3 linked regions of the Homo sapiens genome follow. The protein of the gene in region 3 interacts with the protein of the main gene of each other region in a pairwise test. Each region holds a gene or a part of one and is shown on either strand. Other genes may lie near its edges.

The links.
Region 1: the proteins of AGPAT3 (region 3) and SLC71A2 interact in binary tests that used the Homo sapiens proteins (3 or more experiments, as listed by UniProt).
Region 2: the proteins of AGPAT3 (region 3) and BNIP2 interact in binary tests that used the Homo sapiens proteins (3 or more experiments, as listed by UniProt).

The regions. Positions count from the first base shown.
Region 1 is NC_000009.12:94,377,542-94,381,194, reverse strand, and holds part of SLC71A2 (hippocampus abundant transcript-like protein 1), read right to left. Parts: intron 1-3,653.
Region 2 is NC_000015.10:59,675,750-59,679,402, reverse strand, and holds part of BNIP2 (BCL2/adenovirus E1B 19 kDa protein-interacting protein 2), read left to right. Parts: intron 1-1,315; coding exon 1,316-1,492; intron 1,493-3,653.
Region 3 is NC_000021.9:43,962,681-43,966,333, reverse strand, and holds part of AGPAT3 (1-acyl-sn-glycerol-3-phosphate acyltransferase gamma), read right to left. Parts: intron 1-3,653. UniProt on the Homo sapiens protein: Converts 1-acyl-sn-glycerol-3-phosphate (lysophosphatidic acid or LPA) into 1,2-diacyl-sn-glycerol-3-phosphate (phosphatidic acid or PA) by incorporating an acyl moiety at the sn-2 position of the glycerol backbone.

The sequences.
Region 1 (3,653 bases), on a different chromosome or scaffold from region 3:
CATGGTGGCGCATGCCTGTAATCCCAACTACTTGGGAGGCTGAGGCAGGAGAATCACTTGAACCCAGGAGGCGGAGATTGTGGTGAGCCGTTATCACGCCATTGCACTCCAGCCTGGGCAACAAGAGTGAAACTCCATCTCAAAAAAAAAAAAAGGGGGAAGAAAATTCAAGCCAATATATAGTGACAGAGTAGATAAATTATCGCCTGGAAATGGAGGTGTAGAGGGAGGTAAAAAGAAACATTTGAGGGTGATGAATATGTTTACTATCTTGATTATGATAATGGTTTCACAGGTGTATAGATATGTCACAACACAAAACTGTGCACTCCAAACACACAGTTTATTTTATGTCAATTAAACTGAATAAGGTTGTTTAAAAAAGACAAGCAAATACAAAGCTAACTATAAAAAAGTCAGACTAATGCTGGGCACAGTGGCTCACACCTGCAATCCCAATGCTTTGGGAGGCCAAGGCAGGAGGATTCTTTGAAGCCAGGAGTTCGAGACCAGCCTGGACAACAAAGCAAGAGCACATCTCTACAAATAAAAATTTAAAAATTAGCCAGGCATGATGGGACGTACGTGTAGTCCCAGCTACCAGGAGGCTGAGGCAGGAAGATCACTTGAGCCCTGGAGTTCCCGGGTGCACTGAGCCATAATCACACCACTGCACTCCAGCCTGGATGAAACAGTAAGACTCTTGTCTCAAAAATAAATAAATAAATACACATTAAGAATAGATTTCTCTCCAATTCTCACAGAACAATGCTCTTGCTATGCCATAACCTCTTTCTCCATAGCATATCTAAGATTTCATAACCACTTGTGAAAGTTCTATGACATGCTGAACTGGAGGAAGGGAAGAGGAAAAGGGGAAGAGAGAACACATGTAAGAAACTGAGAAATTTCTTTTTTTTTTTTGAGAAAGAGTCTCGCTCTGTCGCCCAGGCTGGAGTGCAGTGGCACGATCTCTGCTCACTGCAAGCGTGGTCCACCTCCCAGATTCACGCCATTCTCCTGCCTCAGCCTCCCAAGTAGCTGGGACTACAGGCGCCCACCACCACGCCTGGCTAATTTTTTGTATTTTTAGTAGAGACAGGGTTTCACCGCGTCAGCCAGGATGGTCTCAATCTCCTGACCTCGTGATCCGCCTGCCTCAGCCTCCAAAAGTGCTGGGATTATAGGCGTAAGCCACCGCGTCCAGCTGAAACTGAGAAATTTCAAAAATGCTTCCATAGGGTAATAAAGCATGTTTACGTGTATACAGCCAAAAGGATACCTAACAGTAAGAAAAAATTAATGTATTCCTGTTACGTAGAGGAGGTTGTATGCACTTTTACCATTACCATTGAATACTTTCCTGGATATTCTAGTTCATTTAACATCAAAATAAGATATAAAATTATCAACACGTGCAATATTTGTGAATATTTATCCAGAAGATCCTACAAAATTAAATATTTTTTGAAAGACAAAGCACAAGTTATCAATGCAGAGTACCAGCCAGGCATGGTGGCTCATGCCTATAATCCCAGCACTCTGAGAGGCTGAGGCTGGAGGATTACTTGAGGCCAGGAGTTCAAGACAAGCCTGGACAACACAGTGAGACCCAATCTCTACAAAAAAATTTAAAAACTAGCCAGGCATAGTGCCACGTGCCTATAGTCCTTGCTACTAGGGAGGCTGAGGCAGGAGGATCATTTGAACCCAGGAGTTTAAGGTTACAGCAAGCTATGATTGTGCGCCACCGCACTCCAGCCTGGATGACAGAGTGAGGCCTCACCTCTTAAAAAAAAAAAAAAAAAGGGCCAGGCGCAGTGGCTCACGCCTGTAATTCCAGCACTTTGGGAGGCCAAGGCAGGTGGATCGCCTGAGGTCAGGAGTTCAAGACCAGCCTGGCCAACATGGTGCAACCCCATCTCTACTAAAAATACAAAATTATCCGGGCATGGTGGCACAAGCCTGTAATCCCAGCTACATGGGAGGCTGAGGCAGGAGAATCGCTTGAACCCGGCAGGCAGAGGCTGTAGTGAGCCAAGATCACACCATTGCACTCCAGCCTGGGCAACAACAGTGAAACTCCGTCTCAAAAAAAAAAAAAAGGAAATGCACACCAAGAATCCCTACAGAAGGTGAAAAGAGCCTACGAGGTCATTATTCACAGCTTTATGCCAACTAATTTGACATTTTAGATAAAATGGGCAAATTCCCAACAAAACACAACTTACTGAAACTGACAGAACTAAAAATCAAACAGAAAACCTACGCTGTTCTAGAATTAATCTCCAAAAGGCCAAGAACTATAAAGTTCTAGAACTGTATTACCAATCTTACACAAATTCTTCCACAGAATAGAAAACCAAACTATCCAATTTGTTTTTAAGGCAGATAGCATTTGGATATCTGTCTCCTCCAAATCTCATGTTGAAATGTGACCCCCAGTGTTGGAGGTGGGGTCTAGTGGCAGCTGTTTGGGTCATGGGGGCTGATCTCTTCTCAATTGTTTGGTGTCCTTCTCACAGTAATGAGTGAGTCCTCGCTCCATTAGTTACCACAAGATCTGATTGGTTTTGTTTATTGTTTGTTTTTGAGACAGAGTCTCACTCTGTCACCCAGGGTGGAGTGCAGTGGCGCCTCCCAGTTTCAAACAATTCTCCTGTCTCAGCCTCCCAGGTAGCTAGGACTACAGGTATGCACCATCACACCCGGCTAATTTTTGTATTTTTAGTAGAGATGGGGTTTCACTATGTTGGCCACGCTGGTCTCCAACTGCTGACCTTAAGTGATCCACCGCACGCGGCCAAGATCTCATTGCTAAAAGGAGCCTGGCACCTCCTCCCCTCTCTCTCTTGCTCCCTCCCCAACACGTGATAAGCTGCTTCCCCTTCGCCTTCTGTCCTGATTGCAAGCTTTCTGAGGCCCTCACCAGAAACAGATGCTGGTGCTAAGCTTCCTGTACAGCCTAAAGAACCACTTTTCTTGATAAATTCCCCAGTCTCAGGTATTCTCAGGTATTCCTTTACAGCAACGCAAACAGCTAACATACACCTCCTTTTTTTTTTTTTGGAAATGGAGTCTCGCTCTGTCGCCAGGCTGGAGTGCAGTCTGTCGCCAGGCTGGAGTGCAGTGGCACGATCTCAGCTCACTGCAACCTCCGCCTCCCAGGTTCAAGCGATTCTCCTGCCTCAGCCTCCTGAGTAGCTGGGACTACAGGCGCCTGCCACCATGCCCAGCTAACTTTTATATTTTTATAGAGACAGGATTTCACCATGTTGGCCAGGATGGTCTTGATCTCTTGACCTTGTGATCCGCCCACGTCAGCCTCCCAAAGTGCTGGGATTACAGGTGTGAGCCACCGTGCCCGGCGACACACCTCCCTTTTCTAGAAGGAAATGATCTCTTGGAGTAAATACTTGATTCTCTTTTATTTTTCAGATTATGACATCTCTCTGCCAGTATCTTTTTCTGGTCAATATATCTCTTTGCCAAATAAGGTAGAAAAAAGTTGTCAGGCCAAGCATCATGGCTCTAACCTATAATCCCAGCACTGGGAGGCTGAGACAGGAGGATCATTTGAGCCCAGGAGTTTGAGACCAGCTTGGGAAACAGGAAGACTTCATCTCTACAAAAAATAAATTAAAAAAAAAAAA
Region 2 (3,653 bases), on a different chromosome or scaffold from region 3:
CCACTGCTCTCATGTTTTTTTCATAGCTGTTTCAAAAATATTTCTTGATAATTATGGCATGCTCTTTTTTAGTCAATCAAGTAAGAAACTTTTGAAGAGACATATAGTTAACAGTTTGTGGGAAGGGAGTTCTGAAAGGAGGCATTTGGGGTGACTTTTTAAGTAGGTTTGCCTGACATTGCTCTACTTTGTGAAATGACCAACTTAAATTAATGTATACTTTTAGCCCCCGAACCTAGTATTCCTTATTACTTGTAATTCAAAGGAATTGTGCTGTTTTACTTTGCATGCTTTCTTTAATTACAAAATTGTCTACAGTATCTTATATATAGTTGTTATAATTTTTACATATTTTTTTCCATCTTGAAAATGATTTTGTTTTCATAGTAGTGTTTAGCATTCAGTATTTTACTGTAATAAAGTGTGATATGCTATATTTTTGGTTTCTTTTTTCTTCCCTGTTTTACTGGTTCAATAAACAGTCCAGTAGTAAGCAATACTTTGTAAAGATACTGAAATAGTTTTGTGCCTATGTGTTTTGTCTCTTCTTTCTTTAATGCTGCTGTAGTCATTTCCTGGAAGGATATTTTCCGTTAACAGCTTTGTCTTGGAAACAACTAACATGCAGTAGGTTTCCCCCTCCCCCCATCTTTTGGTAAGGACTATAATACTGAAATTTTGAAAATTATTACTACATTGAAAATCAGCTAAACTGCAATCTCAAAACATAAATTACACTTAATCATTGGTGCTTATGCTTTGGCTAATGCTAATTTAAATAGACTTCTGCATGTATACTTCAAAGTATTATAAATACATTTCTGCTTTATAAAACTGATCAAATGAGAAGTGATCATTGAGTAGTTAACCACTTCCTATCTGGTATTACAGTTAATTTATGTGCTCAACAACAACAAAATTGGCTCCCAGATAGCTACTTGAAGTAACCTATAGTCATAACTGCCAGGGAGAATATTGTCACAAGTTGAATCTGGAAAGGCATTGTAAGGCCAGTGTACTAAGATTTTGATGACTCTACAAATTATATTTTCTGAACTTGTGGATACACGTTTCACTATGATTAGGTGGTTTTTGCTAAATTGGGCAATAAAAGTTAAAGAACCATGATTTCCAAAGACATAAAACAGCCTCATGTTAAGAATAAGCCTTTTCCTCCTTTATGGAAGAGAGATTGAAAATTGTGCAGATGGTATAATGAAAATTCTCTGTAAAATCTAGGTAGTAAAGTGGTTAACGTATAATTTGATTTTTGTTGTGTAACAATTTGTGATTCAAAAACTTTGTATTTTGACAGATGATCTTCCAAAACCCAAGACTACTGAAGTAATTAGGAAAGGCTCAATTACTGAATACACAGCAGCAGAGGAAAAAGAAGATGGACGACGCTGGCGTATGTTCAGGATTGGAGAACAGGACCACAGGGTTGATATGAAGGCAATTGAACCCTATAAAAAAGTTATCAGCCATGGGGGTAAGAGTTACTGAGGATTTTTCAGATTGTTTAATGCAATATCAGAATTCTTTTTTTTTTGGAAGGATATCTGTTTATTAAGAGTAAATAAGCCCTGTACAGAACACAGGCGCTAGGTTGAGAGACTCGTCTTTTGTAGGACATTTCTTCCTGCTAACCAGTTCCTGGAGGGCTTGTTTTTTTTGTAACTTTACACAAGGGGCACTAATGGAAAATATAGCTTTCTCAAGACATCTGATGTCAGTTTCCCATTGTTTTGCTTCACAAACATCAACAAAGTAAACCTGAACATGCTTAGCAATTTCCCAATGTTCTTTGCTGACATTACTTTTGACATACTGTGTCAAAATTCTTAAGGTCTCCCCTCCTTTGGTAAAGTAGGCAAAACCTTACAAGGAAAACACTATAATACGTGGAAATATACTGAGTTAGATTTCCAGTCACCTGCTCTATGGCTCTGAGATGCACTATATCCATAATGGTTCCTAGGACTGTGTCCACCTGATGGTTTGGAGTACGGAAAACCAACCCTTATGGCTTAAGAGTCATCTCCCATGGAAGACGATGCTGGCCTTCTGAACGCTGGGGCTCATGGGCTTGTTGATGTGGCTTTCTGGTGTGCCAGGATCCCCTGGCAGCTCCTGTATACTTCAGTCAAGCAGTCCAGCCGGGGCTTGGCACTCTGGAAGACGGGTACTACTTGGGATATCCCATGTGGTTCCACTGGATCCTTCAATAAGATGCAGAGGTAGTAAATCACCTTCTGCATGTAAATAGCCTCATTGATGACAATATCCTTGACCTTGCCCATTTCTATGAAGGTAGTGCTTTCTTAGCCTGAAGCATAAGATGAAGTCATCTGAATGCCAAGGGAATCAATGATTAACAGTCTCCTGATCAATCTTCACAAAATGGAGATAACCAAGCAGACCTAAGAGGGTGATGAAGATGGCAGCAGAGAGGATCATGCTGTTCTCGCAGAGGGTGAAGAGTCCGTAGGCTGCCAGCCACACCGTGCAGGTGACAGCGGTGAGCGAACGCAGCGAGAGCCCAGGGCAGCTGAGGCAGAATTCCCGGCAGGAAGGGAAGTAGTAGCGGCGCTGCAGGGCCAGGCGGCCACCGCAGATATCCGAAAAGCTCCGCTCATCCTCCATGACACCCCAACTCTGCCGCCCGCACCGCACCGCGCGGCACTCCACTGCGCTCGCCTGCCCTAGCCGTTTCATGCAATATCAGAATTCTAAATACTTTTAGAAACTCTGCCTAGAGATATTATGTAATTTTGAAAGAATAATAAGCATTTCTCATTCATTTTAGAAACATGACAGGTTTAAAGTAAAAGAATAAAAGTACCATTTAAAAATGATTATATGCATACAGTAAGTTGAAAAAGTACAAAAGAATTTGTAGTGAAAACTGTCAGGTTGGGCACGGTGGCTCAGGTTTGTAATCCCAGCAATTTGGGAGGCTGAGGCAGGAGGATTACTTGAGCCCAGGAGTTCAGGACCAGCTTGGGCAACATAGACCTCGTCTCCACAAAAAAATAAAAAAAATAAAAAAATAAATAAAATTAGCCAGGAGTGGTGGCATATGCCTGTAGTCCCAGCTACTTAGGAGGCTGGGGTGGGAGGAGAGAGAGCTTGAGCTTGGGAAGATGAGGCTTCAGTGGCCGTGATCATCCCACTGCACTCTAGTTTTTTGTTTTGTTTTGGTTTTTGACCCTGTCTCAAAATTAAAAAATTTTTTAAACTGTCTCTAGGCTACCCAAAACTGGGACTGAACAGTCTCCCTAATTTATAAACAGTGAAATGCTCTGATCTTAAGTGTGCAGTTCAATGAGTTTTGACAAATGCCTATATAACCATATATACCCATATATATAAAACCCATACCCCTAAAAATGTAGAACATTTTCATTGTCCCAGAAGAATTATTTAGTACCCCTGTGCAATGAATACTCAGCTTCGGTAGCCACTGTCATATCTACCCCCTGATTAGTTTTGCCTCTTCTAGAATTTCATATATAGTAACTAAAATCATCCTATGCACTCTTTTGTTTACTTTTCAGCATGAAGTTTTTGAGATTCATCCATGTTGTTGCACGTATCCACAGTACATTCCTTCTTATTGCTGAGTAGTTTTCCATTGCTTGGATAAACCA
Region 3 (3,653 bases):
TTTAGGGTCATGCCTAAAGGCTGGAGAAGGGGAATGAACTGAATGGGAGCCCACACAGCCAGCCAGACACAGGCACACTCCCCATGAGTGTTCTGGAAAGACGAGCTGCGCTGTCTGGAGAATGGTCCCATCCAAAGGTCACCTGTGGCAAGCCCAGGGACATGTGGCACTTTTCCCTTGCTGTCGGCATGCAAAGGCAGCCTTCAGCGGATCTCAGGACCCCTCGGCTGACGCTGGCTAACTGCAGACAGCTGTCAGGGCAGGCATCTGTAAACTGTCTTGCAGGGTGGGCGGCGCCTGGGCCCGATATGAAATTCCTTTTATCATTTCCTTCACTCAAATACATGCTTCCCTAAAGCACAATGAGTAAGCCAGCCATAGCCTATTTTTCAACCACGGATTTAAAAAAATCTAAAATTCTGGACGGGTGCGGTGGCTCAAGCCTGTAATCCCAGCACTTTGGGAGGCCGAGACAGGAGGATCACTTGAGGCCAGGAGTTCAAGACCAGCTGGGGAAGCATGGCAAAAGCCCATCTCTACTTAAAAATAAAAAAAATTAGCTGGATGTGGTGGCAGGCACCTGTAATCCCAGCTACTTGGGAGGCTGGGGCACGAGAATCACTTGAACCTCAGAAGATGGAGGTTGCAGTGAGCCAAGATCGCACTGCTGTGCTCCAGCCAGGACAACAGAGAGACTCTGTCTCAAAACAACAACAACAACAAAAAAAACCTAAAATTCACCCAATAATAGTAACAATTTATCAAGCATTGCTGTGTACCTGCTGTGCGCATTGATTTAGGCTTTATAAGACAGCTCAAAGGCAGGTGGTTTTGTCTGTGCTCTGCAGATGAGAAAGCTGAGGTTTAGAGACTGAAGCCTTGACCAAGGTCAGCAGGGAGTGAGGAGGCTGGGCCAGGTTGTTTAAACGGCTCCAAACCTGCACCCTTCGCCGCAGCACCTATAGCTCTGCACATCAGATGACAGCAGAGACACACTGGCAGTGAGTTCAAAATGGGCAGCAAGAAGGCACCCAGCATTAAGGAATGAGAACAGGAATGAAGAATTGAAAATAAAACCGTGGTTCAGGGTCATCAGAAAACACTGTGGCTGGTGCGGTGGCTCAGCCTGTAATCCCAGCAGCCCAGCAGGCTGAGGCAGGAGGATCACATGAGCCTAGGAGTTGGAGACCAGTCTGGGCAACATGGCAAAACCCTGTCTCTACAAAAAATACAAAAATTAGCTGGGCATGATGGTGCACACCTGTGGTCTCAGCTACTCAAGGAGGCTGAGGTAGGAGGACTGCTTGAGCCCAGGAGGCAGAGATTGCAGTGAGCCAAGATCACACCACTGCACTCCAGCCTGGGCGACAGAGCAAGACCCTGTCTCAAAAACAAACAAACATAAACAAACCCACTGTGAGGTCTGCTCTCACCATGCGCCCCTGAACTGGCAAAGGCTTCCACATACCTCTGACTGCAGAAAGGCTCCCACAAACATATTCATGGAAATAAATCTAAGTGGAGAACATCCCAAATCCAACAAGTCACAGACGGAATTCACATACCCACGCAAGCCCAGCAGATGGAGAGGCCGATTATTTCTGTTCTTACTGAAGTGCTTTTCTTGTGTATTTGTGGTCATCCCAAGTATCTGGGAATTTTATATTGATCTTAATGTATACCTCAATATTTCTTATTTTAATGCTTTTCTTTCTACTTTCTTGCATTAACAAAAGAGATTTACCTTTTTTTCTTTATCTTTTTCTAATACTTTGGAAGCTATGTTTGATCTCTCTTTTTTCCTACCCTATACTTAACAAAGTTACCATTAAAATCTGAACCTGGGCTGGGCGCTCCCGCCTGTAATCCCAGCACTTTGGGAGGCCGAGGTGGGCGGATCACCTGAGGTCAGGAGTTTGAGACCAGTCTGGGCAACATGGTGAAACCCCATCTCTAATAAAAATACAAAACAAAAAATTAGCTGAGCGTGGTGCAGTCTCACCTCACTGCAACCTCCACCTCCCAGGGTCAAGCGATTCTCCTGCCTCTGCCTCCTGAGGAGCTGGGATCACAGGTGCCCACCACCATGCCAGGCTAATTTTTGTATTTTTAGTAGAGATGGGGTTTCACCATGTTGACCAGGCTGGTCTTGAACTCCTGACCTCAGGTGATCCGCCCACCTTGGCCTCCCAAAGTGCTGGGATTACAGGCGTGACCCACTGCGCCCGGCTGAGCACTGTTTTTATTTTACATACGGTTTAGATTCATCCATCTCCTAATTTCTTTGGCTACCATTCTTTCTTGAAAATTATACCCTACTTTTATAATTTTTGTTCTTACTGAAACACATCCTTAAAAAATATTGAAGTGAAGATCTATGGGCAGTAAAAGCTCTCATTTTTTTGTTTACCAAAACCTTTTTATTTTATTTGTACTCTTGAACAACACAGGGTGCTAGGTTGGTGATTTTCCAGCACATTGAGGATCTTCCACCTTCTCCCGCCACTGCTGCCTGCCGTAAGAAATCTGCTGTCGGCCTCACTGCTGACCATCCAGCGTGGTTCTCCAGCTTTCCTCTCCGGGGATTCGAAGACTTCCTTATCTTTTTTTTTTTTTTTTTTTTTTTGAGACAGAGTCTCACTCTGTCACCCAGGCTGGAGTGCAGTGATGCAGTCTCGGCTCACTGCAACCTCCACCGACCAGGTTCAAATGATTCCCCTGCCTCAGCCACCCCAGTAGCTGGGATTAGACATGTGCCACCAGGCCCAGCTAATTTTTATATTTTTAGTAGAGATGGGGTTTCACCATGTTGGCCAGGCTGGTCTCAAACTCCTGACCTCAGGGGATCCTCCTGCCTCAGCTTCCTGGAATGCTGGGATTAGAGGCGTGAGCCACCGCGCCCGGCTCCTCCTTGTCTCTGATGGTCTGTGATGCCCCAGGGCCTGCCTAGGTGTGGATTTCTGTGCATTCGCTCTGCTTGGTCTACATGTGCTTCCTGTATCTGAAAAATCGTGCCTTCATCAGTTCAGGAGGTCCTCAGGCATCCTCTCTTCCCAGGAGGCTTCTCCTGTTCTCTCCTTTGGGGATGGGGGCCAAAGCCCTATTTTATGAAGGTTCTCATTCTGTCCTTACATCTTTTCACGCCTATTTCACATTTTTCACCTCCTTTACTGTCACTGGATGATTTCTTCACATTGATGTCTGGTGTACCCATTCTCTCATTAACTGTGTCTAATCTGATACAAAATCCATCCATACGGTTTTGCTTTAAAATATCTACAGTTTTCACTGAGAGCAGTTCTACTTGGTTCTGTACCCATTCTCATTAACTGTATCTAATCTGATACAAAACCTGTCTGTAAGTTTTTGCTTTAAAATATCTACAGTTCTCACTGAGAGCAGTTCTACTTGGTTCTCTTTCAAGTCGGGGCACAGTGGGTCATCTTCAGTCCACATCTGCTGTTTACGTTGTCATTCTTGATTATGAATTCATATTTAATTTTCCTTAATCTGTGGGATTCTTCAGGCCTGAATGAGACTTTCTCCAGAGTGTACTTTCGTTTGCCTCTGCTGAAACCCAAGGGTCACTGTTAACCCTAGCTTGTCTCGCGCCCTCGCTCAAGAGTCCTGGTTTAGCTTCAGCGCCCTCTGCT